Linked DNA regions of Homo sapiens: all the other regions are linked to region 1. The links come from fine-mapping of genetic effects on gene expression. A gene starts in region 1. Each other region holds a variant in brackets. All regions are shown on one strand. Distances are from middle to middle.

Region 1 (8,099 bases):
ACCCACCAGCATGGCTAACATGTTCAAAAGTGGCCCTGCCAAGGGCTGGCGAGGATGTGGGGCAACTGGAGCGCGCAGCATGTTGGCAGGATCATAACACAAGAACCACAGGGAACGGTTCGGCCATTTCTTAAAAAGCTACACAGAGTCACCATGTGACCCAGACATGTCTGTTCTGGGAACGTCCACAGAAAGACTGTGTCGTAAACGTTCACAACAACCTTGCCTGTAATCACCAAAATCCAAAACAACCTGAACGTCCTCCACGGGTCAGTGGATGAACCAATTATGATACACCCATGCAACTAGTGCTCCCCAGCATTGAAAGGATGAATTGTTGGATGAATCTCAAAATAATTACACTGTGAGACAATGTCAGGCAATAAGAGTATACACGCTGTGTTACCCAGGACAGAAATGAATTAATCTACAGTGACAGAAAGGTCAGTGTCATCAGAGGAGCAGGAGGGTGGAGGGACGGGGCAGGGGCCAGCCTGGGGGAGGGGATGTCCATGGTCTCGATTGTGGTCATGGCTCTGTGGGTGCAGCAGAATGTCAAAACTTATCAAACCGTACGTCTTAAATATGGGCATTTAATTGCATGTCAAAAAAATCTAAACAAAGCTGAAAATGGACAAAATACCACAACCAATGACATCTGACCGTAAAGAGATGGATTTAGGTAGAAGGAAGAATTCTTTAACACAGAATATGGGTCTCTGAGGGAAATGTTATCTCGTAATTTTCTCACTTTTGGTGTATTTAAGCTGTAGGACAAGGAGTGAACCCTAACATTTGGTGAGAGTCTGTGAAACACACTAGGAACCCCCATGCTGCTTGCGAGTTACTTCCGAGAAACAGCAGAATGTCACACCCTGTCACCCGCAGGTGCCGTCTGAGGGGCGCTCATCCCCACCAGCCCGAGGGCCTCCCCGCCAAGGGAGGGGTGTACTCCCTTCCACTTGGCGTCTGCTTGTGCATTGCCCCTCCCTGAACTCAAGACCTGAGCCTCTCTCGCCTGGACTATTTGGAAAGTCTACAAATGGAAGAAGGGGTGCTCTCACTGAGTTGTGTCCGCACAAGGGAAACTGTCCAGGAGCCACAGAAGCAACCGCAAAGTGAGCCTCTCAGACGTGGTTAAAGGGAAGCCAGGCAAAAAGACTGCACGCTGTTGGGTTTCATTTACTCAAAACCCTAAAACAGGCAGAATGAGTCATCTGTGGTAAACCAGCATTGGGGTTACCTCTGGGGGCCGGGAGGGAACCCTGGGGTGCCAGTCACGTCTGGCGTCTCGGCCTGGGTGGTGGGGATGGCTCGCCAAGCCTGTTTGTTGCACACGTGGCATGTCAGCAGAAACACGGGGCAAATACACACGTGAACACAAGAACCCCGGGTCCCTCCCTCATCTACCCAGCGACCCTCAGTCACCCCAGCCGGCTCCCTCTCGCCACCCACGGGCTTTCTGTGGAGGCCCCAGCCTGGCCCTGGAGGCCGTGACCCACCCCGCCTCTTGCCTGAGGTCAGCCCAAGAGACCTTCCTGTCTTCGGCCTGGAGAAGGAGCGGCCGCCAGGACCACCCGGGCCTCAGCTCCCTGGGAGGGCCCCTGGAGGACCGGGGCTGCTAAAGTCCACGGGCATCACCGCATCTAATCCAGGCCCTTTGATGTGGGTGATGTTGATACTCCCACTTTACAGGTGGGGAAACCAAGGCTTCAGCTTCCGTGGCCAGGGGATGAATGGGAGTGTGGTCTGGATGGTGGCTCCTGGACCGGAAGCATGATGGGAGCCATGAGGAATGCAGGTTCTTGGGTCCTTCCAGCTCTGCTGGATTGGATGCTCGTGGGGGCTCAGGGTCAACACAACCCCCCAGGACTCTGACCTGGGAAGTGGAGCAGCCTGATTTGGAGGCGAGGACACACCAGGAGGCACCTTGCCCTGTGGCCACTGCACTGAGGCTTGAGAGATCACTAGAGACAGCTCAGCCTCAGTGCTCCCGCGCCCCCGCCTCGGTGCTCCTGCGCCCCCGCCTCGGTGCTCCTGCGCCCCCGCCTCGGTGCTCCTGCGCCCCCACCTCGGTGCTCCTCCACTCCCACCCCGGTGCTCCTTCCACCTCTGCCTCACCCGATGGACTGTGCCTTTGCGTTTCTTGTGCACAAATCCTGCTGAAGTCTGGGCAGCTGTGTGTTTGATGATGGGCTTGTAGGAGAGAAGCATCTGGACTGCGCCGTGCAGATGGCGCTTCTCTCCAGGCACAGTCACATTCCTGGGAGGTTCCTGGAGGCCTCCGAGCCTCGTGCAGACCCAAGGCTGCCTCACCACCATGGCCACAGCCCAGTGCTGGCTGCCGGGCATCAAATCTGCAGAAATGCACGTGGCATAAAAGCACCAGAGACATCCGTCCAGAGCCGAGGGCTCCTCCCTGGCCCAACATTTTGTCCACGTAAGTCCACTTTTTGGCTGCTGCTCCCAGGCCTGGCAAGAACGCAGATCCCCACAGCCTCCTGCTCCCTGGCAGCCTGAGGACAGTGTCGTAGGCCTGGGATCCTCGGGCAGAACTGAATGCAGCTTTTCCATTGGAGGGCGCTGGGCCCACATGGCAATCACAGGTATGGCAGATGAACTCACGGGATGCTCCGGGACTCCAGGGGCCTCAGGAGAAAGGCCCACTGGCAGCGGGTTGCCCAGGGCTCCAGAGGGGGGCTCCAATGTGAACCAGTTGCTTGTGGCACAGCGGGTCACCCAGGATGGCCCTGCGTGGTCAGTGATAACAGGCAGTCACTCACAGCGCGACTTCACCCATGGTCACTCCCGGTGACCAGCACTGCACAGCCTGGGCTTTCGTCCCACATGGCACCTCCCTGTCCAGCCTTGGCCCAAGTGCCTGGGAAACAGACAGGGCACCGTGTGCCTGAACACACTCGGACAGTCGAGGCCCCCAGGAGAAGCAACAGGCAATGACTCGGTCCCCAAGAAGCTGAGCCTGTCCTTGCTGGGGTCTGTCATCTCCTCTTAGCCCCGCCAGGCTCCTGAAGCTGCCACATGTGCAGCGGGAGGTGGGTGGTTTGGGAGCAGAGCGAGGCTCTGGATGGACGGGCTTTACCACCAGCAGCCACCACCACCTGCTCTGCAGGGCCTGGGCCAGCCCTGAGGAGGTGGCAGACGGAAGGAGGGGCAGCACTGCCTCAGGTCTCCTTTACTGTCTTCCAGACATCAGCTCAGGGAGAGTAGGCATGTAGCACTGAGAAACAGGGTTGCTCCCCATGGCTGCCTCTGCTTCCCTGCCGCACAGTGTCTGTACACGGCCTGGGGACCTGCGAGGCCAGACCGCAGGGCAGGGGCCCACGGCTGTGCCAGCTTCTCTCCCAGGCCGTGGCGGTTATTACCTCCTGACTTGGCAGAGCATCCGGCTACTGGAGCCCATTGGTTCCGGCCAGTGCAGTCAGGACTTAGCTTCCCAGCTGTGATCTAAATCCCAGCCTCCCAAAGGCACAGCGCCTAAGTTCTCCCCTGCCAAGCTCACAGCCTTCTCCTTGGCAGGCTGCCCTTTCTCCTGCTGGACCAAACCAAGGAGCACGGTGACCCAGGGACACCACACTCGGTGTCAGCCTCTGAGGCCATGGAGCCACGCAGACCCAGCACAGGATTAGAAACAGACCTTCCCGGGAGGCAGAGAGCCAGGCCTCCTGGTTTATAGCATGACAAGGCAGCACTCAGGAGGACGCATCAATCCTTCTCCATGTCAGCACCTGTGACTGTGACCACTGGTGAGGTGGACATGCTTCTTTTTCCATTTTACAGATGAGGAAACTGAGGCCAAGGGAGGGTCAGCAGCCTGCCCTGGGCTGACTGGTGATGCAGCGAGGGTGGGGTGTGGGAGGGTGGCGGCGGCCCTTGCAGTCCCTGGGAACCTGCACCTCTTCCTGGGCGCTGTTCCCCTCTCTCTCCCAGGACCCTTGGGCCTGGCGTTTCTTCACCTGCGACCATCCAGGAGCTGGACCTGCCCTAGGGCGTCAGTTTCCAGGGAAGCCTCTGGCCTGTGTGTGAGCCTCCCCACCTGCCCGGCCACGGCCTCCACAGGCGCCCTGCGCAGCCCCGCCCCTCCTGGGGCAAAGGCTTTGCGAAGACTTTCTTCTCTGGCTCATCCCTTTAAGGAGGCATAAAAACGAACCCCGGGCCTCACAGGTCCGGAATGCGCCCCCCTCCACGATGGGAGCTTCTTGGCCTTGGCTGTGCAGGGGCCGCGGCTCCTGGGGGTCTGGCCGGATCTGCAGTAGTGCTGAATGAGCTGTGGCCAGGAAGACGCAATGAATAATTGTCACTTAAAAGGATAAACAGAAATTCCATTTCCCTTTTAAATACTTGAACATTTCAAAACATCTGGAGGACGCGATGCTTTTCCTTCCAAGCATCTCCGTGGAGTTTTGTGGGTTACCGCAGAGGATCGGCAGCATTCCTCTCTCAGGGAAAACTGGCCTGAGCATTGCATAACGCAGGCAGACTGCACCCCTCACGTCGCCTGGGGCCACATGCACATGTTTCCAAGAGACTTGCTGGAGAATCTTCCCCGGATCTTGACAAAGTTGGACATGGAAAGCACGTTGGTCCATCCAAGGTCCACAGAGCGACCCTGGCTATGAAAAATCATCCTCCGAGTGGGAGTCTGTCTGCCAGGAGTGAGGTGACACCGCACATGGCCTCAGGAGCTGGAAACGCTGGTGAATTCAGATGCAGCCAAAGCTTCTAACTTAGTCACAGTTATTAATTATTCTTGGTCTTATTGGAGCAGGAACCACTGCCATGCATCAGGCCAGCAAGGCTCACTCCCCACCGTAGGATCCCTGTGTAGACGGTCGCTCCATCAGTGTAGTTGGGTGTGTGGAGCAAGGGACTGGGCTGACCCTACCTTCCAAGCATCGATGTGGCCTTCAGCAGAGCAGGAGGAGATAGCCCAGGACTTGTACTTTGCAGTTGAAGTGCCAGACCTAAGAAATGCAAACCTGAGGATGGAAAGAGGGTGGAGAGGGGGGAGGTGTCTGGATTGGCCGTCCAGAGCAGCCCCAGCTGCAGCAAGTGGAACTTGGCTGGCTGCCTCACAGGCCTGGTGGCAGCGTCCCCAGCGAGGAGCCTGTCCCACATATGAAGGTCCCCATACCCTTAGCCCCTAGCTGAGAGTTTCACTGACCAGAGCTCCCTGAGTCCAGGGCTCCACTCAAGGGACTGCTGTCCCCGTTGGTGAAGAAGGCCTGTTGGGGCCAATGCTTCCCCCCACAGGGAAGCGGAGCTGTATTTTGTCGGACAGAACTTTGCAAGCCTGAAACAGCTGGTGGTGGCCCCAGAGCCAAGATCTGACCTCACTCCAGAGTTGAAGGGCACAGAGAAGGCACAGCTAGAGGCGGCAGGTACCCCTCAAAGCTCTCGGGAGAGGGTACAAAGTGGGACCTCCCAGCACCCTTGGCCTCCAGGCCTCAAAAGCCCTGAGAGGGCTGCATGCAAGGAGACAAAGCTGGAGAAGGATGTGGGAGGCAGGTGGCTAAGAAGACAGGCTGGAAAGGGACGTGGGAGGTAGGTGGCTTTGCTCTAAACAGAATCGTCTCAGTAATGTGACACTGCACATGTATAGGTAGGCTCGCTCATGGGCATAACCCTCTAAAACACACCTTTTATGGAGTGAAATTCACTTAACAGCCATCTTGAAGCATATACTTCGGCGGCATTTGCTGGATTCACGACGTTGTGCAACCTCTGCTTCTCCAGTTTCAGAACATTTCATCCCTCCAGAACAACAGCTCATCCCCATTAAGTAATCACTCCTCATTCCTTCCCCATCCTCTGGAAACCACAGATCTGCTTTCTGTCTCTATGGATTTGTCCGTTTTGGATATTTCATATAAAAGGAATCACGCGGTGTGCGAACGTTTGTGTCTCACTTCTTTCGGTGGAAGCCACATTTCCAAGCCTCATCCCAGTGGTGGCCCCTGAGTCCCCTCAGTGTATCAGTGTCTCACTTCTGTTCACAGATGCATAATATCCCACCCCAGGGACCGGGCACCATTTGTTAATCCCTTCACCTGTGGTGGACACCCGGTCGTCTCCGCCTGCCGAGACCAGCTCGGTCAGGGAGACCCTAACCCAGCGGCGCTAGAGGAATTAAAGACACACACACACACAGAAATACAGAGGTGTGGAGTGGGAAATCGGGGCTGACAGCCTTCAGAGCTGAGAGCCTTGAACAGAGATTTACCCACATATTTATTGACAGCAAGCCAGTGATAAGCATTGTTTTTATAGATTATAGATTTAAAGGCATTCTTTATGGGAAATAAAGGGATGGGCTGGAAATAAAGGGATGGGTTTGGCTGGTTACCTGCAGGAGGAGCATGCCCTTAAGGCACAGATCGCTCACGCTATTGTTTGTGGATTAAGAATGTCTTTAAGCGGTTTTCCGCCCTGAATGGGCCAGGCGTTCCTTGCCCTCATTCCGGTAAACCCACAACCTTCCAGCGTGGGCGTCATGACCATCATGAGCATGTTACAGTGCTGCAGAGATTTTGTTTATGGCCAGTTTTGGGGCCAGTTTATGGCCAGATTTTGGGGGGCCTGTTCCCAACATCCGCCTTCCAGCTGTTACGAAGGACGTAGCTACGAGCGTCTGTGTGCGCGTTTCCGAGGGAACAGGTTTTGTTTCCATGGGGCGTGTGCTTAAGGGGTAAATGCTGAGTCCCATGCTAAGTGTATGCCTAAACTTTTTCAGGAACCACCAAAGTGTTTTCTGCAGCAGCCACACCATTTTACATTCCCACTCCACATTCTCGCATTTTTCTACTTAAAAAAACTCCAGGCAGAGGGAACAGAACAGGTAAAGACCAGAGGCCCAGTAGGCGGTGCTTGGCTGGAGCTCACCAGGGGCTGGACCAGAGGACACGAGAAAGACGGGAGTGGAAGCTGATGCCCAGTGGTGGATGGCAACGAGGGCTCGGGTGGCTGGGCCGTGTCGCTTATGCAGAGGAAACGGAGATGCTTGGAAATGCTTTGCAGAGGTGAGAATATGGCTTGTTGGGAGAGCGCTTGTGTATCTGGAATTATCTGAGGCCTGGAGGAGTGACACCAGTGACAAAGCCTTTGCAGGACACCCAGGAGGCCATGGGAGTTGTCAGGTGGGACTGCCATGAGAGAGGGCTGGAGAGAAGAGGCGGGCAGAGGACACAGCCTGGGAGCATCTGCAGTCTGGGCAGAGGCGGAAGCAGCCTTCAGGGCGGTAGGTGGGAAGGAGACAGGGCAGAGAGGGTTATCCAGGACTCTGGGGAGAAGAGGCAGGTCCCAAGTTGTTTACCAAGAATTTACATTAAAATAACATAAGCTAGGCTGAGTGTTGTCACACCTGTAATCCCAGCACTTTGGGAGGCCAAGGCAGGCGGATCATTTGAGGTGAGGAGTTTGAGACCAGCCTGGCCAACATGGTGAAACCCCGTCTCTACTAAAAATACAAAAAATTATCCTGGTGTGGTGGCGTGTGCCTGTAATCCCAGCTACGCTGGAGGCTGAGGCATGAGACTCGCTTGAATCCAGGAGGCAGAGGTTGCAGTAAGCTGAGACCACACCACTGCACTGCAGCCTGGGTGACAGAGCAAGACTCCGTCTCAAAAAAAAATAAGCTATTGATGGGCTATATATTGTTAAGCTATAGGGTGTGGTTACAGTGTCCAGTGTAGCATTGTTCGATTAATTTATAGCCTCTTGTGGCAACAGCAAGCAGTTTCCAGAGATGAATACACAGCTTGAGTAGGCAGGGGGGAGTAGGACATGACGGCTGCCTCATCTTAACACCTTGGGCCTGATAATTTAAAAGGACTCACAGTCCTCAGATAAACATGACTTTCTTTTCTCATGAGGAAACAGAGAAGGTGGCTAAAGGGTATCTCTTTCTCTCATGATCCCAAACCTATCAGGTTTTTATTTCCCACACCACCCAGTTTTCCAGCTCCTTGGATGCCAACTGGATGTCCTGGAATTCCATTCAATTCTGAGACTAACAACCTGGGTTGCAGTGCACCGTCCTCCCTCCCGGCATCTGGATGAATTCACCACCCTGGGAGTTTTTG
Region 2 (8,099 bases), 210 kb before region 1:
TCACTAGAAAGCTACTTTCTTTGACTTCTAAGTGCCTACATAAATTTTATGCGAGAATTATGATTTAATGTTATATTTTTACTACATTCATTCAACAAACATTCATTGAGCATTTACCATGTTCTAGGCCCTGTAGTGAGTGTCATTTGAGATTAAAAACATCCTCCCCTAACTTGTCCAATATTCCTTTTGAAAAGAATTCCCTAAAAAATTTCTTGTATTGCCTTGTGGGCTAAAGTACTGTCTTTCCTGAAAGTCTGACATGCTTCCTTTTATCAGATAATGTGACTTGTGTAAGATTCATATTTCCATATTTCCCTTTTCACCTTGGCTATCCGGAAGCTCAGTGTGTAGCTTTACGTTCAGCTGTTCTCACCTTACATGTGTCAACAAATCCACTAAAAAAATTTCTTTTAAAAGGAAAGAGACAGGCCGGGCGCGGTGGCTCACGCCTGTAACCCCAGTACTTTGGGAGGCTGAGGCGGGCGGATCACCTGAAGTCAGGAGTTCGAGACCATCCTCAACATGGAGAAACCCTGTCTCTACTAAAAATACAAAATTAGCCAGGCATAGTGGTGCATGCCTGTAATCCCAGCTACTCGGGAGGCTGAGGCAGGAGAATTGCTTGAACCTGGGATGCGGAGGTTGTGGTGAGCGCCGAGATTGCGCCATTGCACTCCAGCCTGGGCAACAAGAGCGAAACTCCATCTCAAAAAAAAAAAAAAAAAGGGGAAAGAGACATTATTCCAGCAAGCAGTTTGCAAACTGGGAGATGCTGCCTTTGGAACAAAACAAAGGTGCATTCCAGAGAAGAAACATGCGATTGTCTTCCACAAGGGAATTCCTGCCCAGGATCTCATTCTGGCCTTTATGCAGATAAGGGAGGCAGACTTGCTTCATTCTGTTTGGTAGAGCCTGGTAGCAGTCTATTGGTTTGGTCCAGAGGGCAAATTGGGATTTTCTGGCCTTGGTTGATTCCAGCAGCATGAACAGACAGCTGTGAAATTTCCAGCACTTCCGGGAACGCAGAGCTGGCGTGTGACCTCTAGTGAGCAAAAGGTCGCGTGCCTCCATTTTGAATTCAGGCCCAGTGAGCCCCTTGGGATGCACCTGGCAGGATGGGCTCTTTCAGGTTCAGATACCTGATTCCACCGTTCTTCCTTCAGTTCTTACTTTGAACCCTCCAAAAATTATTCCGTTGTGTACTGGTCATTTATGTGGCTTCAAATCCTTTGAAAGTAGATTGTTCAGACATGATCTAATAATGCTGTTTTGGAAATGAATGAATGTCCACTTGTCAATGGGTTGATATGTGAACAGAAGAGTATATCCAAAGAGAGCAAAGTGTAACACCAAGGTCATTGAAAGAAGAAATTATAGAGATTTTCTATTGGGTCATCATCTGATCCTTTCTTCTCTCAGTATTTTATTTCCCAGCTCATATTATCACAGCTCTAAGAGACAACTTTCTAATTTAGAAAACGAATGACCAAATCCTTCATTTAGAACACAAATGTGAGAAGGCCGGTGCTTGGGCAGCTCTGCGGGGCTGTGTTTTGTTGCGGGAGCCCTGGATGTATGCTCAGCCCCTGTGCCTCTCAGAGGGCTGGGGGCCCCACATACAGATACCTTGCTCCGATGTGCCTGGATAAGCACTGAGGGTGGGTTTTAGGGACCGACTGGGGAGAGATGCACGTGGGGTCTGAGTCGACCGTCTGTGGGGCACTCTGGTCATGCCCAGCATCCATTTGTGCAGCACAAACTTTTTCTCTGGGACTGTCCGCCCCCCAGGTTCTTGTGGTATCGTAAAGACGACCACAGTTTCGAGATGTAGGAGTGAAATGGACCGAGGCTAACCCAGTGAAGTTTGCGGCTGGGTTAAGGAGTGAGTCAGGGAGATGCGTGTTTTCTCCATCATGACTGGGAGAGGAGTGCTCATTTGCCGGGAGGTGAGGGTGACTGTGCACCTCAGCCGCCAGCAGGAGCACCAGAGAAGCCCTGCTCCAGCCCTGCTGACGTCTGGGCCTGGGCCACCAGCCGGTGCAGTGAGCCTGGACCCCAGGAGTGCCTTTTCCAATCCTGACAGACAGCTGCTTAATGTGGGACATTGCTTTACTTTACGAGTTGAAAACGCCACCCTAGCAGCACGGAGCACCTCCCAGGGGCTAAACCCTGTATCATGACTGAATGCGCCCATGTCAATGAATTCTAACATCTAACTCTACATTCTGCCTCCCCTGAATCCAACGTTCTTTGGATCTAGTTCTGCATTTACCCCTGGCTCATGCTGGTGCATGCATTTTGGTCCTGAAGCTCCTTGGCCGACTGTCTCTTCCTCAGTTTTTAGCCTCAGCACTTCTCCAGCTTGATGATGCTGACCTGGAGGAGCTGAGCTGGAGGTGGGTGGCAGGCGTGTCGCCTTGCAGAGGTCTCTGCAGTGTCTTCAAGCACAGAAACAGCATTTGTCCTTAACAGACAGAAATGTGACACCTCTTCAGGCCCAGCAGATTTAGAGGAATCTGGGATTCAAGATTTTTGAGTGCATTCATTCAGATGGCCCCATCGCAAGCCTCTCTTCTTCCCAGTCAGGGCCTCTCTTCTTCCCAGTCAGGGTCCAGAGCTTGGAACAGCACCTTCCGAGGCCGAGCACCCGAACCTGGAACAACACCTTCTGAGGCCAAGCACCTGGCCTTCTCTGGAGCTCTGCCTTCTACACGGTTAAGTCCTGGCCCTGATCCAGTGTTTTGGTTTTCCTCTGGTCACAGGAGATGAGTGTCTTATGTGGCACTGAGGAGGCCCGTTAGCGTGCCACCCTTTTGTTTCAGGTGGTGATCTTTTCATTATCTTGCCCTCAACACGAGCCACCTGATTCCATAGTCCATGTATCTGTGACTTTCCCGAACTCTCCAGCACCCGAGATCCTGCCGCTGCCAGTGCATTTCCTTCCAAGGGGCTCCCGTCCTGGCTGCCACTGCTGCAGTCTGGAGATTCACTCCTGACCCCAGCTGTCGCCTGGAAACAAACACCAAAGCGAGATCCGCGTTGAGTTTATCAGCAGGCCTGTGAGGGTGGAGGGATGGCAGAGAAGCAGCTTTGTGGCTGGGCTGCCACAGAGGACTCCACTGGTCCTCGGAGAAACACAGGAGCCGGCTTGCTTCCAGTGGCTCCAAACGGAAGCATAGTCTCCGTCGTAAAGCAGGGGTGTGGATGGCGTCCACAGCACCCACTGCAGACGCCACCCAGGGCCAGCGCTAGACGCAGAGGCTCTGGGTTGGAACCAGGGGTGCCGCCTTAACCTCCTGTTCTGCCCCAGTGAGCACCAGGCTTGCAAGGGCTGAGGATGAGAGAGGCCCCTGTGGCTGCAGGCTCCCAGCAGTCAGGGGAAGAAAGGCCATTCATTCTTTCAACGCATGGAACTGCTTTTTAGGAAGTGAAGGTAAGCAGTGGAAAAAAATAGGCCTCTATCTTCATGAAGCTCCTGTTCCTCTCCATGCAGTGTGTGTGTGTTTGTGTATGTTCACGTAGGTGTGTGTATGTATGTTTAGTGTGTATGTCTGTGCATGTGTATGGGTAGTATATGTGTGTGCTGTCTGTGTTGTGTGTATATGAACATATGTGTTCATGTGTATATGTGGTGTGTGTATGTAGGGTGTGTGTATATGTGTGTATATGTATGTGTGTACACGTGTGTAGTATGTGTGTGGTGTCTGTGTGTGGTGTCTATGTGTATGTATATGTATATGTAGTGTATGTGTGGTATATGTATGTGTGTATATATGTGTAGGGTGTGTGTGTGGCACTGGGTGCAATGAAGTTTTGCAACATAGAGGAGGGAGTGTAGTCTCAGTTCATA[T/C]ACACACCTACAGTTCATACACACACACAAACATACTCCTCAGAGAGGAGGTCAGGGAGGAGGAGACCTCGAGACAGAAGAAAGGGAGGTAAGGGTGGTACCTGCCCATGCTGGGGTCTGCAGGGGGACTGGGGGGGGACCTGCCCATGCCGGGGTCTGCAGGGGGACTTGGGGGGGGACCTGCCCATGCTGGGGTCTGCAAGGGGACTTGGGGGGGGACCTGCCCATGCCGGGGTCTGCAGGGGGACTTGGGGGGGGGACCTGCTCATGCCGGGGTCTGCAGGGGGACTGGGGGGGGACCTGCTCATGCCGGGGTCTGCAGGGGGACTGGGGGGGGACCTGCCCATGCCGGGGTCTGCAGGGGAACTGGGGGGGGACCTGCCCATGCCGGGGTCTGCAGGGGGACTTGGGGGGGGGACCTGCCCATGCCGGGGTCTGCAGGGGGACTGGGGGGGGACCTGCCCATGCCGGGGTCTGCAGGGGACTGGGGGGGGACCTGCCCATGCTGGGGTCTGCAGGGGGACTTGGGGGGGGGACCTGCTCATGCTGGGGTCTGCAGGGGGACTGGGGGGGGACCTGCTCATGCTGGGGTCTGCAGGGGGACTGGGTGGGGGAGACCTGCCGGTGCCGGGGTCTGCAGGGGGACTGGGGGGGGACCTGCCCGTGCCGGGGTCTGCAGGGGGACTGGGGGGGGACCTGCCCATGCCGGGGTCTGCAGGGGGACTGGGGGGGACCTGCCCATGCCGGGGTCTGCAGGGGGACTGGGGGGGGAGACCTGCCCATGCCGGGGTCTGCAGGGGGACTGGGGGGGGGAGACCTGCCCATGCCGGGGTCTGCAGGGGGACTGGGGGGGGGGAGACCTGCCCATGCTGGGGTCTGCAGGGGGACTTGGGGGGGGGACCTGCCCATGCCGGAGGTCTGGGGTGGGGGGCTGTGTGTGCGTGTATGTGTCCCCGCCCCCCTCGTGCGTCTGCAGCAGGTGCCTTCGGATCGCATCTCAGGAGCTGGGGCTGGGCGCGGGATTCCTCCCCTGCCAGATCGTTGTACGTGAACTTCTCTTGGCAAAGTTCGTCCGCGAGTCAATCGCTCAGCCTCGCTCAGCGGGCCCGGGCCGCGCCGGCGACCTTCCTTCGTCTCTTCCGCCAGGCAGCCCGCTGGGGTCCCTTCCGCTCAGCGGCCAATCCGCGGGGCGGGGGCGGGGGCCGAGGCCTCGGGGGAAGCCGATCCCTGCGCCCCCCGGGTCTCCGCCACCCGCCAGCGCCGTCCCTGCCAACCCCGCCCCTGCAGGGCCCGGGCCAGTTGGGAGCAGGGGCCGGGCCGCGGGCGGAGCCTCCCGGTCCCCGCCCTCGCCCTCGGCCAACTGGCGGTCTTGCAGGCGGGCGGACCCTCGGCCGCGCTCGGGGCTCCGGCGCCGCCGCTCCTCCTGCTCGGCCTGAGCTGCCCGGGCTCGGCGCGCGCTTGGGGCGAGGCTCGGCGGGCGCGGACGCGCAGCATGGCGGTGGAGGACGAGGGGCTCCGGGTCTTCCAGAGCGTGAAGATCAAGATCGGTGAGTGTCCGCCGGCAGCCACGCGTCCGACCCCCCGGCCCGACCCTGTCCTCTCCCGCGCCCGCCTCCCCTCCGCAGATCCTTGCTGGGGACCCCGGCGGAGACGCCCTCCAGGCGCGGCGCGCTCCCCGGAGAACGGCTGGTCCGGCTCCGCGGCCCCTCCCCACCTCCCCGCCTCCCCGGGCCTCGGGCTGGGTCGAGTCGGCTCCGGGGTAACGCGGCTCCCTGCGCCTCCTCTGCGCCCGGAGCGGCCCCGGTCCCTGGTAGCGGCGGAGGAGGTGGGGTCCCTGCGCCGAGGGACGTCTGTCCGCGTGTGCGCCCGAGCGTGTGCCCCGCGTGTTTGCAGGAGTGCGCGCGCCTGAGGCTGTCTGGGCGCCTGCACTTCAGGTGTCAAATCCACTGACGTCGGGGTCTCGGCATCTCCCTTTCTCCGCTGCGCCCAGAAACTTCCTTTCCGGGGAATGTGGAGGCTCCTTCACGCTTCTCCCCAGGGGCGTGAGGCCCCGGCGCGCTGCTGCTGCTGTGCGCGCGCGTCTGTGCCTGCGTGCGCGCGTGTTTGTGTGTGCTTGTGTTTGTGTGTCCATGTGTGGGCGGTGTGTGTGCGCGTGCGTTTGTGGGTGCATGTGTGGGTGCGTATTTGTGTGTGGATGCATGTGTGCGCGCGTGTGTATTTGTGTGTGGGCGCGTGTGTGTGCGCGCGTTTGTGTGTGTGCATGTGTGCGTGTGTGCTGGTGGGGCGTTCTGGCTGAGGGCTCCCGCGGGGCGGGGAGACCCCGGACCCATCGGCACCACGTCCCTTTCCACTGAGAAGTGGCGGGCGAGCTGGTGGCGACCAGGGCCTGCGAGGCTGCGGTTTTTCTCTGGGCTTCAGCAGCTTCTGAAGTGGGCTCCCGGAGGCGTTTCCGGAGAGGAGGCTGTGTCTGGACTTCTGGTTTATCTGGAGGGATCTGCTTTTCCCTGGTTGTTTTATCTTGGGAGAGTGATGTGGAAGTCCTCCCCCTCCCCCAGAGCAAGACCGTTTCCTGGAGTGACTGTTCCATATTCATGCCATGAGTGTGCTGGACCACAGCGCGGTTCAGGCTGGAGAGGCTTCCAGGGCCTGCAGTGTCGCGGTCCCCACGGTCCTTCTCCCCCACTGAGCCGCACTTCGCAGCCGGCCTCTTCCCGTGTGAAGAGGCCTCCGGGAACGGGCTGAGTGTCAGTTGTTGATGACATTTGATGCTGCCGGAGGCATTCCAGCTCCCCTAAACCAGCGGGCTGTTTCCTGTCGGCTTTATTTTGGTTTGCGGATCATCGCTGAGACACTGTCTTGATATTTGGCCCAGAAGCGCTGCAGCTAGGATGTGGCAGCACTTCCGCTTTGAGTAGTCCAGAGAGGAGGGATTTCTTTTGTTAATGTGGTTTAAATCCGCTGTCACTTTCATACAAGAAAGCCAGAGCTGGCGCTCCCTGAAGTGCCTGAGGTCGCCTTGCCTGGGTGGGGAAAGGTCGCGGCCCGTGGGGGTCAGTTTGCTGCTCTTTCCTTCAGCCAAGGCTGCTTGGCTCAGCCAGCGAGTCTGAGGAGTGTGAGAAGCACTGGGCTTCCTCAGTCACGGGGGCAGGAGGGCTGGAGGTGGGTGCCCCTGTGGGGCAGTGCCAGGTCTCCAGGCAGCAGGCAGAGGCGGCCTGGGGCTTTGCGGCTCGGGGGTGGGGGGCCCACAGCCGGCACAGCATGCTCGCTGTGTACTCCAGGAAGGGCTACACTTCAGGCCACGGCAGGACTTTACAGAAGGCATGGGAAGTAGAACAGGAGGGCGAGGGAAGACCAGAGTCTCAGACCAGATACTCAGACCCTGAGTCTCCCAGAAGGCAGCTTCACCGGCCTGCGGGCACTCGGCCCCACTTCCGACAGGCGTGGGGGTCAGGCACCCTGGAGGATCCCTCGGAGAGAAGGAGGTTTGGAGATGCCACAACTTGGTCAGGCTCTGTGCTCCACTTTAAACAAGCCAGTGAAACCCTGGCTCAGCTGAGGCTTAGGCTGCTAATCCCACGTGGGGCCTGGATATCATCTGAACCTTTGACCCTCCCAGGGGCAGCAGCAGTGAGGACGGGTAGAGAGGCCCAAATGCCAGCTGCCCGACTCTCTGGATGTGGCTCCAGCAAGAAGTCCCCGTTTCCTCTCCCCTCCAGAGGTCACCTGCAGGGCTGGCTGCCTGAGGGGTATCTGTGCCCCAAGTAGCTGGGGAGACAGGGCACCTCCTGCATTTGAGCAGAGATGCAGTCTGGGCTGGAGACCCTGAGGGTGACCTGTGGGTGCGCTGGTTTGGGGTTAGTCTCATGTAACTGTGCTGCTGGCCTGATACCCCGGGGCTCCAGCAGAAAGCCCATCTGTAGAAGCGAAGTGGAGGATGACCCTGAGCGGCGCTGGTGCCAGGGGGCCACTGAGCCCCTCAGGCTCTTTCTTTAATCCACATTCATGGCCAACCTTGGCTCTGACTTGCCCTGCCTGAGTCCCTGGTCTTGAAGGCTCAGACAAGATGGTGCCCCTGTGGTTGATTTGAGGGCCCCTCGCTGTCATTCACCTCTGAGCCTTGTCTCCAGGAGCGCTGGATTTGCCCATGAGTCTGCCAGTGACTTGCTGCATGACCCAGGGCCCGTGTCTTCCCCTTCATAACCTCATTTTTCCGTTTGCAAAAGCCAGGCAATTATTGTCTACTACA
Region 3 (8,099 bases), 22 kb before region 1:
GCTCCCCACTCAGAGGAGGAGAGGGAGTCTTCCTAGGGGTGTGGGGGGCTCCAGGACATGCCTGTAAGACGAGTTTCACCAGAATCCACCCAGAGCCCTCTCGTTCAGACACGCACACGTGCATATTCATATGTACACAGCACATACATGCTCGTACATACCACACATGTGCACAGGAGGGCACGGGCAGGTGACCTGCAGCATCTCTGATCCGGGTGTCTCTAAGGCAGTCAGAGGCCACAGGCGGAGATGCTGTGTGCACTGTCTATTCCCGTGGAGACACATGGGGGCCGTCCCTGTGGTGCACATGATAATGCAGAGGCTCCCAGAGGGTGAGCTCTGCCCATCACTCAGCCAGGGAGGGAGGGGCCCTTTTCAGGGAGCCGCATGCCACGCAGAGCTTGTCCCACTGGGTAGTTTCCTCTGATCAAAGTGGGGCACCATCCAGGCTGCAGAGAGAAAGGGGACCCCCCAAAGCCAGCACCCACCCTTGACTGAAAGACACCACAGAAGATAAGTGCCCATCGGCCCCAGAGTCATCATTTCCCAGACAACCGGAAATGGGCCCTGGACGGGCTGTCCTGGACAGGCTGCCGGGCAGTTGGGTGTGACTCAGTTGCGGCCTCCAACTGTGCCAACCAGAAAGGCACCCAGAGAAGCTTCCGGAAATACGGTTGGTTTGTCCCCTTGGTGGGGCAGGAGGCGGCAGCTCTGCCGGGTGGCTCCCAGCACCCTCCCCCACAGAGCAAACATCGGCATGAGTCTGTCCACCCGTGTATTCGTCCTGTCGCCGCGTGTGGCTGGCCTCATTCTGGGTATGCTGGCGGCAGCCACCTCTAGGACAGGGAGGTCCCATGGCTCTGCAGACACAGGAGCTTGGCAGTGGCTTAGCTGTTAGAATGTGAGCCTTCCAGAGTCAGACGCGCCTTTGCCTTCTGTTGGGCTCTGAGCTCATTTCCTCAAACCCAGGGTAATTCTGTTCCTCCTTCACTGTCTGGTGGGGTGGGGGTCACAGTGTCCGGGGGAAGAGCTGATCAGGGCCAGTGCTGGGGTGGGAAGGGCTGACTCCTGGGACCCCGGAGAGGTGATTGTTGCCACGGGGGGTAAAGTTCCACGTGCTGCTCCTCTGAGCCTTGATTCTGGGCACTCCAGGGCGGCCAGGCCTGGCTCACACCTTCCTACCTCAGGGAGATTTCCGTGGCGCAGGCACACGCCCTGTGGGATGTGAGTGGCCACCTGGCTTGGGCCCCAACTCCCATCAGAGAAGCGGGCAGGTCCCGAGCGAGCTGTTCAGGGCACTCAGCAGCCACACACCCAAGGAATGGGGCTGCCTTGTGCCAGGCCGGGGGTCTGGGGAAGGGCTCAGTGGGCGCTGAACTCAGAGGGTCCTGGCAGCGGCAGTCAGCGTCCAGGATGGTCAGCGGTGAGGCCAAGCCCCGTCTTAGTGGAGGGGACGAGGCTGGGCTTTGGAGACTGTGGGGAGCAGGAGACATCCCTGAGGAAACAGGTCTACGCGCCGCAGAGCCCGAGAGCAGCTCCTGCCACGTGGTTGATGCTGCTGAGGCCGGGGGCTGCCTCTGCCCCGCCGCCCCGCCCAGCATGAGCGTGTTCCTGCTGCTGCCCGGCCCGTTGGGCTGAGAGGCTCAGGCAGCAGCGCTGGGGTCGATGGAGTGGACCAGGCAGGGGCCCAGGGCAGGAACCCCCTGTAGATGCACAGCCCTGAGCTCAGCAAATCAGCTGTGGTGACATCCAGGGAGGGGTGGAAGCCCAGGCTCCCCCTAGAAGGACGCTGCCCTTGGCCTTCAGTCCTATGGGGCACAGATGCCGCCTGGGCTTTCTAGGGCCGGCCAGTGGTCCTGGGGTGGTGGCCCCCGTTGCCCCAGGCCCAGTCTGCCTCAGTTTTATCCTCAGTCCCCACTGGCCCCTGACCTGTGCAGATTCCAGTAAGTGAGCGAGGCTGTCAGAGCCCTCCCAGGCTGGGGGAGATGGCCCAGCCCCACATGGTGCCTGCACCTCCGAGGTGGCCCCCTTGGAACCCAGCCCTGAGCAGGCGGGAGCGGCGGCCACACAGCGGCCCTGGGCAGGCGGGAGCGGCAGCCACACAGCGGCCCTGGGCAGGCGGGAGCGGCGGCCACACAGCGGCCCTGGGCAGGCGGAGGGGTGGCCACACAGCGGCCCTGGGCAGGCGGGAGCGGCGGCCACACAGCAGCACAGACCCTGAGCCGGCGCAGTTCCTCCAGCCACGCCAGCTACACCTTGGCTGTGTCCCTGCCGGGCTCCAAACACCTGTGTCCGTGCCACTGGCCACCTCTTCCCTGCCGTGTCACCCCCACCCCTGCCAAGTGTTCTGTGTGTTTTCACTGCAGGTGATGTGGGAAAGGGCGAGTCTCAGTTCAACGTTCTGGTTCCTTGGGGGCTGTCGGAACAATCGTGTGTTCTTTCCAGAGTTTTCTCTGTCTGGGTTTAGATGCCCACACACGGGACCATGTATTCAATCCCTGTGCATATAGATGGTGCCATATACGGAGAGAGGCATAGGTTGTCTTACGAGAGTGGGGTCGCGTTGCACTGTGGCCCCTGCCAGGCCCTGTCCGGAGTGCTGAACACAGAGCAGCAGGTGCCGCCGGTCCCCAGCCTCTTGGAGCCCCGTTCCCTCTGGGCGTCGTAGACAGTCGAGTTCAGCACATCTCTACGTGGAGTTTCGCAAAAAAGGCAACCACTTTGAAATGGGAGGGCCGCAGCGCCATGGCCTGGCGACGCCTGTGAGTGACTACAGTGGGGCCTGGAGGAGGAGCAGGGGGATGAATGCAGCCTTGGGGCAGGCGCTGGGGCCTGGAGGAGGCTTGGGGAGCAGGGCATGGGGGGCGGGGAGCGAGTGCAGCCTTGGGGCAGGCGCTGGGGCCTGGGCCTGGCTGGGCCCCTCTATGCCTTTCAGTCTTGAGGTCTGGAAACCCGGCCGGGATCTCCCCCGAGTGGGCAGTGCTGTTGGTGGCGGCGGGGGGGAGTGGTGCTGGCACTGTGTGGCCGGGCAGAGCCGAGGCCAAAGCAGTTCCATCCACACGCAGTCCACGAAGGGACGTCGGGCGCCTCCCACAAGCAAAGGCCCCGCCCGGCTCCAGCCCGGCCCGCAGGGACGACCTTGCCCTTCTTTCCTCCCTGGCCAACAGCACCACCCCGTGGGGGCCCCGGTGCTGAGGGCTCAGGCTGCCTGTTTCCGTCCTGGAAACCACAGACACCCGAGATCCAAGCAAGGAAGGCAGGATTTCCATACCTCCTCCCCAGCTGAGCATTCGCTGGAGGGGGACGGGGCTGTCACTACGTCCCTTATGATGATCACCTCATAGAGGCTGGGCCTCCCCACACCAGGACCACACGCCCATGAGGGCCCCACAGGCCTCAGCCTAGAGAGCCCCCATGGGAAACCCTGTGCTGTGAATGGTGTGGAAATTCCCCTGTGTCCTTCCCACGTGACCCCACAAAACCCTCAGCCGTGGACATCCCGAGTTCCTCTGAACGCCCGGCCTTCCCAAGCCTCGCCAGCGCCACGGACATCCCGGGGCCCCGGGGAAGGGTGGCTCTGCCGGGAGACAGGGTCTTCTCTCTGGCTCTGGTTCTGAAGGCTGTGGTGGGTGCAAGGTTCACCAGAGACGGCAGGACTCCCGTGCCCTGGAGCGGGAGGGAGTCTCTCCTGTGTCTCCCCTGGGCGCCGGCTCCTGCTGAACCCCAGACCCAGCTGTGGGAGAAAGCTGCCCAGGGCCCTGCAGGAGAGGCGGGGCCAGCCCTGGTGCACACAGGGGCAGAGGCACCTGGGCTGGTCTGGGCTGGGAGGTCAACTCTCCGTGTTGCAATGCTGTGTCCAGGTCTGAAAAGGGCAATGTGAAAGCAACTCCTCAGGGACAGAAGCCAGGCCACTCTGGGGAGAGGCAGGACACAGCCCTTCTGGCCCTGAACACCTTGAGGGGCAGGCAGGGGGTGATGACCCCACTCTACAGATGGGAGCACCGAGGTGCCCAAGGCAGGGGGTGAGGACCCCACTCTACAGATGGGAGCAGTGAGGTCCCCAAGGTGGGGGTGATGACCATATTCTCCAGATGGGAGCACCGAGGTCTCTGAGGCAGGGGGTGATGACCCCACTCTACAGATGGGTGCATTGAGGTCCCTCAGGCAAGAGTGATGACCCCACTCTACAGATGGGAGCACCGAGGTGCCCGAGGCAGGGGGCGAGGACCCCACTCTACAGATGGGAGCACCGAGGTTCCCAAGGCAGGGGGTGAGGACCCCACTCTACAGATGGGAGCAGTGAGGTCCCCAAGGTGGGGGTGATGACCATATTCTCCAGATGGGAGCACCGAGGTCTCTGAGGCAGGGGGTGATGACCCCACTCTACAGATGGGTGCATTGAGGTCCCTCAGGCAAGAGTGATGACCCCACTCTACAGATGGGAGCACCGAGGTGCCCGAGGCAGGGGGCGAGGACCCCACTCTACAGATGGAAGCACTGAGGTCCCCGAGGTGGGGGTGATGACCGTATTCTCCAGATGGGAGCACTGAGGTCTTTGAGGCAGGGAGTGAGGACCCCACTCTACAGATGGTTGCACTGAGGTCCCTCAAGCAAGAATGATGACCCCACTCTACAGATGGGAGCACCAAGGTCCCCAAGGCAGGGGGCGATGGGAGCACCAAGGTGCCTGAGACATGAGTGATGACCCCACTCCACA[G/C]ATGGGAGCACCGAGGTCCCTCTGTGGGCAGCTTGGGGCCAGGCACAGGACTGGCAGAGGCTGGGAGCACAGCTTGTCGGGGCATCTGCGGGTGTGAGGGCCTGACACTGTCTTCAGGGCTTAGCCTTTGTTCTCCCTGCAAGAGGGGACAGAATGCCCTTTGTCTTTGTAAATCTATGCCCTGCTTTAGGCAAAAAGAGGAATCCGGAGAGCACTCCTGGACCTGTTTCTTCTTAATCGTCTTCATCTCAAAGGCCCTTCCTGTTTTGGGGAGTCACACACACTCTTCTGACACTGACGACCTGGAGTGTCACAGACCCTGAAGGTGAAGGGCTCTGTCCCACAAGACTCTGCCCCTACTTCTGATGACAGCCGTACATGGGTACCCAGGCAACCCACACTCACTCCTGACAACTGCAGATTTGGGGAACTTTACATCCCCTCAGATTCACTAGAACACCTCCCAGGGCTCAGGAAAGTGCTTTACGTACAATCATGCTTATTATGAAGGAAACCCATGAACAGCTCAGTGAAGAGAGTGGGGAGGTGGGCACTGATCTCTGAGCACCGTGGGGGCTCCCCAGCCTGGGGGCTCCCCAACCCTGATGCCCAAAAGTTTTTATCTAGGCCTCATTACACAGGTATGATTGATTAAGTCATTGGTCATTGGTGATTGAACACAAACTCAATCTCTGGCCCCTCCCAGGAGTGGGGGCGGTGAGGGGGGCTGGAAGTTCCTCTCTAATTACATGGTTGGTTCCTCTGGCAACAAGCTCCCACCCTAAAGCTACCTTGGGGTCCCCCAAGAGTCACCTCATTAGGGTAAACAAATGTGGTGAAAAAGAGTTGTTATGAAATCAGACACCCCTATCAGGAAATTCCAAAGATTTAAGGAGTTCTGTCCCTGGAACAGGGGACAAAGACCAGATGTATTTTTTATTATACCACAATACAAATCTCTTAATTTATTCAGGTCTCCTTCGATTTATCTCAGTAGCGTTTTGTAGTTTTAGGTGATAAGCTCATGCACACTGAGATTCAAAGGGGTCTGTTGGAGCGTTCAGCAATTCATGAACTGAGCAGTACCAGAACGTGTGAGGTTCAGCGTGAGGTTCAGCGCTCCACTGAGGTTGAGGGGCGGAGCTCTTTTCTAAGTGTCTGCAGAAGCGGGACAAAGACAAGACATCTGGTTAAAAGGAAGTCCCTGGTGAGAGGCTGGTTTGGCAGTTTCTGGGCAGTGTCAGTTTCGTGGCCCAGTTCCCAGTGGGCTTCGGTGTGCTCACACAGGGTCCCAGGCACTGAAGCCGCCTCAGCCCAGGGCCTCCTGGTTAACTTTCTCATGTAGCTTTCCGAGTATATGTCCACCACTTGTTTTGGTCAAAGCCACTCATAAGTAATTTAACATTTTTGATGTCAAGAACAATAAATAGAAGTTTCCTCTTTGTGCCTCCCCAGTCACTGGGCTTCAGTCCCAGGAGGCAGGTGCCAGGCAGACGTTGGTCCCTTCTGCTAGTTTTGCCTGGTCTTGAACCGGTGCTGTGGGCTCTTCTGGGGCTGGTTCCTTTCATGCTGAGTCATGTCTATGTGACTCCTCAGTAGTTAGTTTTTTAAAAAATTGCCAGATATAAATGTGTGCTCAGGCAGGTTTTTGAGAACTCCACACCATCTCTTGGGAACGATGAGAAGTCCCCTGAGTCCCTGTGGCAGGACGTGGGCTTTTCATGGGTCAGCCTGAGCCCCGCTCCATGGCCCCGATGGGCGCTGGGGCAGCACCCTGGCTGGACATGGGCTCCTAGAGAGGGCAGTCAGTGCTCGGCAGGCCAGAATCATGGAGGAGGGGTCGGGAAAGCACTGCTGACCCCCAATCCCATGGATATGCTGTCATCCTCCCAATGGCCTGGCTGATGGGCCATGGTGGGTGTGGACCCCTGAGTGAGTGTCTGGGGGGAAGTGTCACGGGGTCAGCCTGTGTGCTTCCTGGGCTCCTTGTCTACATGGCTGCGCATCTGCTTGGCTGTGTGTCCGGGACCTGCTTGTGTCCACTACAGGCCTGGGCCCAAGGAATCTCGGGAGGTGGAAATGGACACCCGGGGCCGCAGAAGCTGCACAGGTGGGGCCAAGAACCAACCAAGCCTTGCTGCCAGCTCCCCGCTCCACCCACTGTGATGCCAGCTGCTTCTCACATCTGTGAAGCCTCACCCAGCCTTGGGCCATCATTTCAGGTAAATAAAAAGGCCTAATGGCCCCATCAGGCCCTGAGCTCCCTGCTTCCTGAGGAGCTGTCTTCTGCTGGAACTTGGAGGCCACGTGGGCAGAATGAAACTCCTGCTTCCGACAGCAGACGGCAGCAGTGACCTACTCCTGGCTGCCCTGCCCATCTGGAGCGGGTTCTGGGTCTTTTGGGCCCTTTGAGGTTGGTCCGCCCTCCTGCCCTGGCAGCAGCCAGTATTTTACTCCCAGTTGCTCCAGCCTCCCCCAACCCCCTTCCCCGTAAGTAACCTGCCCCGACGCTTGTCCTGGAGCCACGGTGTGGAAGATTCCAGCAGCATTGAGGAACCAAATTTTATATACAGCGTTTCCTCCAAGCACGCAGCTCTGATGTGCCTTTTCCAGGGCCAAAGGCCCCTTCAGGAATCTTCAGGCTTCCCGCTCCACCTCACCTTCTGTAGTGCTGCCAGGCTGACGACAGCCCCCGGGTCTGTGGCTGGCCCCTCTCTCCCAGAGCATCTTGGCCTGCAGTGCTGGCCACAGCCAGAGAGAGGGAAGAGACAGCCCCAGCAGTAACCACGGGTGCCTTCGGCCCACGCACCTGCCGGTCGGCCCCAAGGGTGCCAGGCCTTCCTCTCCTATCGCCGCTGTGGGGCTCCAAAGGGCAGCCAGGAGCCCCAGCTCTGCTGTGGCTTTGCTGTTCCCCAACTGTGAGACCCTCAGAGAGCTGCCGGGCGCAGGTTTCCTCCTCGGCCAGCGAGCAGTCAGACCAGGCTTCGGACCCCTCTACTGTTCCAGGGTGGAGGGGAGGACCCAGGAGACCCAATGGCCTGGATGCCAACAGCCAGCGTGGCCTGACGATGCCATAGGGCACAGGGACAGGCTCTCCGTCCTCTGCGGCCCCGTTCTGCTCCCACCCCAGTGCCCTCCTTTCACCCTGGGGTCCTCCCTGGACCAGCAGCTGCCACCCACAGCACACTGGGATATTTGTGCTGGCCTAGCTACTACCTGACACAGCTGACCACCTCACCCGGCTGACGACCCACACAGCCTCCTGGCCTGGGTCCTCCTGCGCCAGCATTGTGTGTCAAGTGTGTGTGTGGCTGGCATTCCTGTGTGCCGCGTGCAGAGCCTGCAGGACGCCCTTCAGTTCCCAGGATGCCCCACCACAGAG
Region 4 (8,099 bases), 50 kb before region 1:
GTAGCAGTGCTGGTTTAACTGCGGGTCCTCTTCTGGGCTGCAGCCCGCCAGTGTCTCATTGTGTCCTCACATGTGGAAGAGGCAAGCCAGCTTCCTTGGTGTCTTCTATAGGGACGCCCATCCCCTGCACAAGGGTTCCACCCTCACGCCTTGTCACCTCCCAAAGGCCTCATCTCCTGATGCCATCCCTTGAGAGTTAGGATTTCAACCCACAGATTTGGGGGCACAAACATTCATTCCATCCAGATGGACACAGCTGCAGGGCATCGGTGCTGGCTCCGGGAGTGCGTGCCCAGGCGCTGTGAGCAGTGAGGCAGAGACGTGTACCTGGTTCAGGTGTTTGGACTCAGGTGGCACAGGGCCCTGCCCTGGCTCAAGGGTTCCATGGCTGTCCGCTAGGGGCGAGGCACCAGAATGGCCTTCAGCAGGAGTGATGTGGTCCGATTAGGAAGGTGGCCCCGGTGCGTAGGTGGGGTCCGGGGCAGTGGTCTTTAGAAGCTGCGGCACAGACTGGTGTCCGCCCTGTGCTCGGCCAGCCCTGGGCTAGGCCTGTCCTGGCTGGACATGCTCAGTGGCAGCTGGGTGTGAAATGTGCTGAACCCCATCGTGCTCACTCCCTCAGCTGACTCTTCAGGGCTGCCCCAGGGCCCATGAGCCAGCCCAGCGTCCAGCTGCAGGTGTCTCTCCTCCTGGTTCTGGCTGGGCGGGCTGGTGGGGCGTGCAGAGATGTGCACATCCCCCTGTGAGAATGGCTGATTGGTGACAAGGCTGGGAGCTAGGGGCAGCAGAGCCCTCAGAGGTGAATGAGGTTGCTCAGCATCCAGCTCCCAATGGGCTTTCCCTGGGCTCAGTGTGGGCACAACTCGCCTACCTGCGGGAATGGTTTCTATCTCCGTCTGCGTTTACGAGTGGTGGTCAGCCCTTTCTGGAGGAGCTTGCGTTGGAAGGATGTGTACTGTGGGTGGGGCCTGCAGCGACGCAGCTGTGTGGAGACGGGGCCGGTGGCCTGGGCTCCTGCCCTGCGCTGACCCCTCCGCCCTCCACAGAGGCCTGTGGGAGCAAATCTGTGTATGACGGCCCGGAGCAGGAGGAGTATTCGACGTTCGTCATTGACGACCCCCAGGAGACCTACAAGACGCTAAAGCAAGTCATCGCTGGGGTTGGGGCTTTGGAGCAGGAGCACGCCCAGTATAAGAGGGACAAGTTCAAGAAGACGAAATATGGAAGCCAGTGAGTGCCACTCCCGTGCCTGCCCTGGACGGCCAGTGTAGTGGGCGGGAGATTGCAGTGGGGGTGGGGCTGCAGGGAGCTCCCGGGTGGGGCCGCCCGTGCTCAGGTGTCCGCCTGGGAGGAGAGTCCCACTTGCACCGGGCTGGCACCTGGCGGTAGTCAGTGGACGTGGCCCGGCGCTGCTGGTCCCTCCTTCAGAGCAGGTGCTGCCTTTGCTCTCCAGGCCCCCAGCCAGCGTCCGGGCTGCCTCCCTGACCTGCTTCCTCCCAGCCTCTCTGCTATACTGGTGTCACGTGCTCTGGCAGTCTCTAGGCCCAGGTCTTGTTCTGCCTTGGTTCAGTGGCACACCCTCTGGCATCTCTCCAGGCCACCCATGGTGCCCGGGAGCAGGGCCAGCTCTGGACGAAACCCACTCTTGTCTCATGAGGCAGGTGTGGCGAGGTTGAGTACGTTCAGCTTAGTCACCAGCTGCAGGCTAGGTGGCGCTTAGCTAAGCTCCACTCCCCCTCACTCCATGGAACAGAGGGTTGTAAGACCCTCATGAGTTGCTGGAAGATTGACTTAAACTATGTAAAGTGCTAGGCTGGCTCTTAGCCTGGAGTGAGCAGATGTGTCTGTGTCACTCTCTCCATCCAGTGGGTACCCAGGTCCACCATGGCAGAAGCCCCCACACGGGCTCATTCAGGGGCGGGTAAGCCCTAGAGCCCTGTGTAGCTGTACAGCCTCCTCCTCACTTCCATCCTCCTGCTCACTCCTCTCTTTGGTCCTCCCTCCCTTCGATCCTCCCTCTCTCCTCCTCCACCCTTCTTCTCCCTCCTTCCCTTCCTTCCTTCTTAACCCCTCCTTCCTTCCACCATGCGGGTCTGGTCTGGGAAGGGCAGTGGTGAGGCTCCAGGAGAGTGACAGGTCCCTGTGGCCCGGACTTGGACCGAGTTGCTCAGGGGACTGAGCCTGCAACACCTCCTGAGTGCTGTGACTTCACCTCTGACATCATCATATCAGATCCCTCTCGACACCCTTCTGGGGAGACAGCCCCATTTGCCTTCCAAATATGTTGCCTCGTTGATATCAGCAGGTCCATCAACCTCATGGCCAAAAGCCAGCAGGTTGAAAATGCGCGAAGCATGATGCTGTTTGTTGTAGTAGAAGGCGCACACGAGGCACACATGGTACAAGATGCACACACATGGCAGGAGGTGCACACACATGGGTGGAGGTGCACACACATGGCAGGAGGTGCACACACGGAGGAGGTGAACACGTGGGAGGAGGTGGTGCACACGTGGGAGGAGGCACACACACGGAGGAGGCGCACACACATGGCAGGAGGTGCACACATGTGGGAGAAGGCACAGACGGAGGAGGTGCACATACATGGCAGAAGGTGCACACGTGGGAGGAGGTGCGCACATGTGGGAGAAGGCACACATGGAGGAGGCGCACACAGCAGGAGGTGCACACACATGGGAGGAGGTGGTGCACACACGTGGGAGGAGGTGCACACACGTGGGAGGAGGTGTGCACACACGTGGCAGGAGGTACACACAGAGGAGGTGCACACATGCGAGAGGGGTGCACACACGTGGGAGGTGGTGCACACACATGGGAGGAGGTGCACACAGGAGGCACACAGAGGTGCACACACAGGTGCACACGTGGGAGGTGTACACACGGAGGGGTGCACACACATGGGAGGAGGTACACGTGGAAGGAGGTGCACACACGTGGGAGGAGATGCACACATGGAGGTGGTAGGCACGTAGGAGGAGGTGCACACACATGGAGGTAGTGGACACACATGGCAGGAGGTGCACACACATGGTATGAGGGAGGTGTGCATGTGGGGAGGAGGTGCCCACGCCTGCTGAGTGTCCCAGCACTGGGACAGATCTGTGTCCCTGGAGCTCATGCTCCCCACACATGAGCACACTCTTTGCAGTGCAGATGTGCACATTCTGCACACGTGCCATACACTCTACATATTCCACATCTGCACATGTATATGCGCTACACACGTGCCACAGGGAGAGCACACGTGCACATGTACTTGCACGCCTGACCCACCTGTGCACACACATCAGAGTCACCGTGGGTGCTTCCGGGGGCACTGTGGTTCCTTTGGCTCCTCTATTTTTTGTGTGGATTGCAGTGTGAGTGTGTCACATTTAGGAACAGGAAAAGCTCCCGCAGCCACGGGTGAGCACCAGGCAACGGGGTCTGTGCCTCATTCCCTCTCCCATCCCCCTTTTCAGGGAGCACCCCATCGGAGACAAGAGCTTCCAGAACTACATCCGGCAGCAGTCCGAGACCTCCACTCATTCCATTTAAAGTCTGCGGGACGCGCCCAGTGGCGCCAGCAAGCTGCCCATGCAAAGCCGCAGCCTTTGGGAGGGAGAAGAGAAGGAAGAGCGCAGAGCCGGCAAAGTGAGATGCACGCCGTCCCGGCCCATAGACAAGTGGCGCTGGGGTTTCCCTCTCCCAGAACCGCTGCCACCACCGCCACGCCCTCCGCAGAAAGCCCACCTGGCCCTGTGGAACGTGTCGTCATTTGATTCTGTGCTTTTTGCTCCTTGTTTGTGGGGATCTGGGGATCAGCTGAAGGATCAGGAAGTGTGGGCTGTGCCCTAGCCACACCACAGCCAGCCTCAGGGAGCCACGGCCCGTCTAGTCGACTGTGACATGCACCTCCGGCCGTGTGTGCGTCAGTCTCGTGCACGTCTGTCTTGCGTGCACGGTGCGTGTGACGCTGGGCTCTGTGGCTCTGTGCCCGGGAGGCCTGCTGGCCCCGCCTCGGCTTTCGGCTTCATCACATTGGGAGGTTCAGAGCATTACTCTCCCACTGTGCCTGCCATCCAGGCAGCCATGGGAGGCGGCCTCCCTGTTCCACTTTCGAGGTTCGTTTGATTCCTGGCTGAGGGGTCAGTTTTATGGCTGGGAGGTGCAGAATTACACAGAAGTCCCAGTCTGAGGATGTCCTTGGTGCTTGGGGGATACGGGTTCTGTCCACAGAGTCCCTTGGAGGGAAAGGTGTGGGCTCCAGCTTCTCCAGGCGTCTGCGGAGCCCACAGTTGAAGCCCACATCGTTTTGCTGTTGAATGGGGTTTAAAATCAGAATTAACATTTGCCACCCCCCGTGGAAGTTTGAAGATTTTAAAAATAGAAATGTACATTTTTCAAGCTGTTTTTCTTTATGTTTTTGAAGGACCATTTTTAATTAGCTCTTTGATACAAAGTAACTCAGAACGTCAAAACCTATACCCACTAAAGGGAAGGCTGCCGGGAAGGCAAATGGAACAGGAATGGAGCCTGTCTCAGGAAGGCCAGCTGCAGGTCCTCCAGAAAATCAAAGAAGGGAAGAAACTCTGAGTTTGAGGTACAGGGGCTTCGGGGTGCAGACGTCC[C/T]TCCAGGGCCCATGGTCAGTATTGCACCTGTGTTATGAACCCCCAGATGCTGTGCAGGGCAGGGGCGGGGGCTGCTGTTTTATTGGGGAGGGGAGCATCCTAAAAATGGGGTCCAGGCAGACCCCTCCAGACCTCACACTGCCGAGGAGGCCTTTCCCAAAGGGCGTCCTCCCGGGATGCAGACGGCAGGTGTGTGGGAAGCGCCGTTTAAATACACAGCACGACGTATCCTTGTACCGACTTCTCCCGGTTCTTGTTTGAAAATACTGTAGTTCAGGCTCTTGATCTAGATGGCAGATAGGAACTTTCTTGTCACAAAAATACTGGAGGAAAATGTTGTAAAAATAGACTTTTGGACACACAGCTGTTGGGGCTGCACTGAGCTGCAATTTTTAACATGGATTTATAACTTAATGTTTCTGTTTATAAAATACTAATGATTTGCAATGTATTTTACTGGCCAATTAAAACAGATGTTTTATTCTTTCTGAGGACTGCCTTGGTTTTCCAGTGGTACCCACTGGGAATTGCACATGTGGGCATTAGGGGTGGGGGGTACAGGGAGGAGGGTGGCACCTGGGGAGCAGGATGACATTGCTGATGCCAAGTGACGTCCCTGGTGATGGGTGATGCTGCTCTGACAGGTGGCACTGCCCTGATGACAGGTCACATTGCTGATGCCAAGTGACATCTCTGGTGACAGGCAGCGCTGCTCTGACAGGTGACAGGTGACATCGCTGGTGACAGTTGACGCCTCATGACGGGCAGCGCTGCTCTGACAGGTGGCACCGCCCTGATGACAGGTGACATCACTGGTGACAGTTGACATCTTTGGTGATGGGCAGCGCTGCTCTGACAGTGGCATTCACCTGTGGTGCCTCAGGTGAGAGTCCGGCCCTGTGATAACCTCAGGAAAGGTGTGTCCACTCAAGGAGTGCTGGGCAGACAGACCACCACGTGCTGCCATCTCCAGGAATGCAGAGGGGGAGGCCACTTGGAGGCCCTGGGAGAAGAGAACGGACTGCGCCTCTAGGCAGGTGGCTGCTGTCCCTCCAGGCAGGAGAGGGTTAAGGGGGGCTCTGGGTGAAGACTCCATGATACGTTGCCTCATTTCTTTATTCCTTTCCTTGCTCCATTTGAATTCCTCTTTTTTGGTAATTCTATTGTGAGTCAGCTCTGGTATGAGAAAAATGAGGAGGTGTGGCTTTGGGGACACCAACCCAGGCCTTTCTCCCAGGGAAGGGTGAGGCTTGGTTCAGCCTGGCCGGCCTCCTTAGTCCATGCTGAGGTGTGGGGTCTGCCCCAGTCCAGGAGTGGCTATGGGTGGTGGACAAACCCTTGCAGGTGGGGGCATCCTCCCCGGGAGGCCAGCCCGTCCTCCTGGAGCCACACTTCCCGGCAGGGCCTCAGGCAGTGTCGGGAGCCAGGGGGCTCCGTTCACACTCTGGGCACAGCTGTGCTGGGGTCAGCCCAGGAGGGCCAAGGTCAGCCCCTCCAAGAGGAAGTAGAAGGGCAAGGAGGACGAGGCCCCAGGGAACGTGGAGAATGGAAGCCCCTTCTGGAACAGCCAGGAGAGTCCTACAGGGCAGTGGGAGGTGGGAGTGTATGGGGGCCGGAAGCCCCTGCGCGTCTCCACTGATATGGTTTGGCTGTGTCCCCACCCAAACCTCATCTTCAGTTGCAGCTCCCATAATTCCCATGTGTGGTGGGTGGGACCCAGTGGGAGGTGATTGAATCTGTGTGGTGGGAGGTGATTGAATCTATGTGGTGGGAGGTGATTGAATCTGTGTTGTGGGCGGGACCCGGTGGGAGGTGATTGAATCTGTGTGGTGGGCGGGACCCGGTGGGAGGTGATTGAATCTGTGTGGTGGGAGGTGATTGAATCTGTGTGGTGGGAGGTGATTGAATCTGTGTGGTGGGAGGTGATTGAATCTGTGTTGTGGGCGGGACCCGGTGGGAGGTGATTGAATCTGTGTGGTGGGCGGGACCCGGTGGGAGGTGATTGAATCTGTGTGGTGGGCGGGACCCGGTGGGAGGTGATTGAATCTGTGTGGTGGGCGGGACCCAGTGGGAGGTGATTGAATCTGTGTGGTGGGCGGGACCCGGTGGGAGGTGATTGAATCTGTGTGGTGGGTGGGACTTGGTGGGAGGTGATTGAATCATGGGGCGGTTCCCCCATACTGTTCTCGTGGTATAAGTCCCACGAGATCCGATGTGAAAGTTTTATGAGGGTTTCTCCTTTTGCTTGGTCTCATTCTCTCCTGCTGCTGCCATGTAAGACGTGCCTTTCACCTTCCACCATGATCGCAGGGCCTCCCCAGCCATGTGGAACTGAATCCATTCAACCTCTTCTTTATAAATTACCCAGTCTCAGGTATGTCTTTATCAGCAGCATGGAAACTGTCTAATACACCCACCAAGAGACTGCAGGTGGCTTTGTGGAGACCCCAGTGACGCCCATTTGCCCTTGTTGCTCCAGACGACCCAGCACTTGTTGGAGAGAGACAGCGGCCTCCTCTCCCATCCTGGCAGCATCCGCGGGGCTCCCGACATCAGAGTGTCCAAAGCAGGTGCCTCTGAGGAACCGTCCCAGGAGGCCAGGCAGTGCCAGAGCGTGTGTGAGGCCAAGGCCCCCACCCTGCACCCACCACTTGCCCAGAGAGCTGAGGCCTCCTGGGTGCTGAGAGGCTGTGGGCTCTTCAAAAGAAGAGATCAGAAGGAGGGGAGCCTGCAGCCTGGGGGTCACACCTGCTTCCCCCTGGCTGAGGAGCCCCGGGTGCGGGAAGCGGGTCCTGGGGGCGGGGGGGTGCGCCGGCTCGCGAGGTGCCTGTCAAGGGGCAGAAGGGGCTGCCCAAATAAGCCACACTGTTGTAAGGGTTGTTTTGAGCTGAAACAGCCATCCACAAGGATAAGAACGCTGCTTTCTTCTGGCTCTGGAGAGCGTCTTCCCCGTGGGGTGTTACCTCCTCTTTCAGGAAGGAAAGGCCATTCCCGGCCACACAGACCGTGCTGGAGTGCGTGTGCCTTTCTCCAGCTCATCTGCTGATTTTAATTATCAGGCCCGACCAAAAAACCCCAAGAGGTAAAATGTTGCCTCCCCACCCACCGTGGTCTGGAGGCTGGAGGAGACAGCGTGCCGGGGATTTTCTGTTCGGCTCAGTACAGGCTGAACTCTGTCCCGGCAAATCCTCATGCTGGAGCTGTGACCCTGTGACCCTCAGGACCTCAGGGTGTGGCTGCACTTGGGCGTGGAGCTGTAGAGATTGTCAAGGTAAAGCGAGGCCCTGACCCAGTGTGACCAGCGTCCTCATGAGAAGGGGAGACGAGGACGCAGCACACAGGACCACCACGTGAGGACACGGAATACGTCATCTTCGCGCCAAGGAGAGAGGCCTCGGGTAACCAGCGCTGCGAGACACCTTGCCCCCAGCACCGGAGGGAATGAGCTCCCGCTGTTTAAGCCGCCTG

The links.
Region 2: its variant is fine-mapped to the expression of SWINGN in blood mononuclear cells (TOPMed, PIP 0.97).
Region 3: its variant is fine-mapped to the expression of SWINGN in whole blood (TOPMed, PIP 0.99).
Region 4: its variant is fine-mapped to the expression of SWINGN in whole blood (TOPMed, PIP 0.94).

What each region holds. Positions count from the first base shown.
Region 1 is chr13:113,924,328-113,932,426 of GRCh38, reverse strand. It overlaps SWINGN (SWI/SNF complex interacting GAS6 enhancer non-coding RNA), which reads left to right and starts at 3,436. Exons shown (of 1, transcript NR_047495.1): 1 at 3,436-5,913. It also overlaps a transcript of C13orf46 not described here. RefSeq lists an enhancer at 1,421-1,490.
Region 2 is chr13:114,129,736-114,137,834 of GRCh38, reverse strand. It overlaps RASA3 (RAS p21 protein activator 3), which reads left to right and starts at 5,212. Exons shown (of 24, transcript NM_007368.4): 1 at 5,212-5,400. The coding sequence starts at 5,346. It overlaps LOC107987192 (a long non-coding RNA gene), which reads left to right and starts at 6,832. Exons shown (of 2, transcript XR_001750050.2): 1 at 6,832-8,099. RefSeq lists enhancers at 2,691-3,191, 3,021-3,200, 5,489-6,116, 6,287-6,786, 7,077-7,336 and 1 more and silencers at 4,907-5,006, 5,037-5,696. The variant T/C (reference allele first, on the strand shown) is at 3,854.
Region 3 is chr13:113,946,374-113,954,472 of GRCh38, reverse strand. C13orf46 (chromosome 13 open reading frame 46) reads left to right here. Exons shown (of 7, transcript NM_001365455.2): 7 at 1-768. Among named protein-coding and RNA genes, the nearest start is that of SWINGN, 21 kb to the right of the region's middle. The variant G/C (reference allele first, on the strand shown) is at 4,718.
Region 4 is chr13:113,974,806-113,982,904 of GRCh38, reverse strand. RASA3 (RAS p21 protein activator 3) reads left to right here. Exons shown (of 24, transcript NM_007368.4): 23 at 1,047-1,230; 24 at 3,483-5,122. The coding sequence ends at 3,558. Among named protein-coding and RNA genes, the nearest start is that of C13orf46, 4.8 kb to the right of the region's middle. RefSeq lists an enhancer at 3,517-4,017. The variant C/T (reference allele first, on the strand shown) is at 4,632.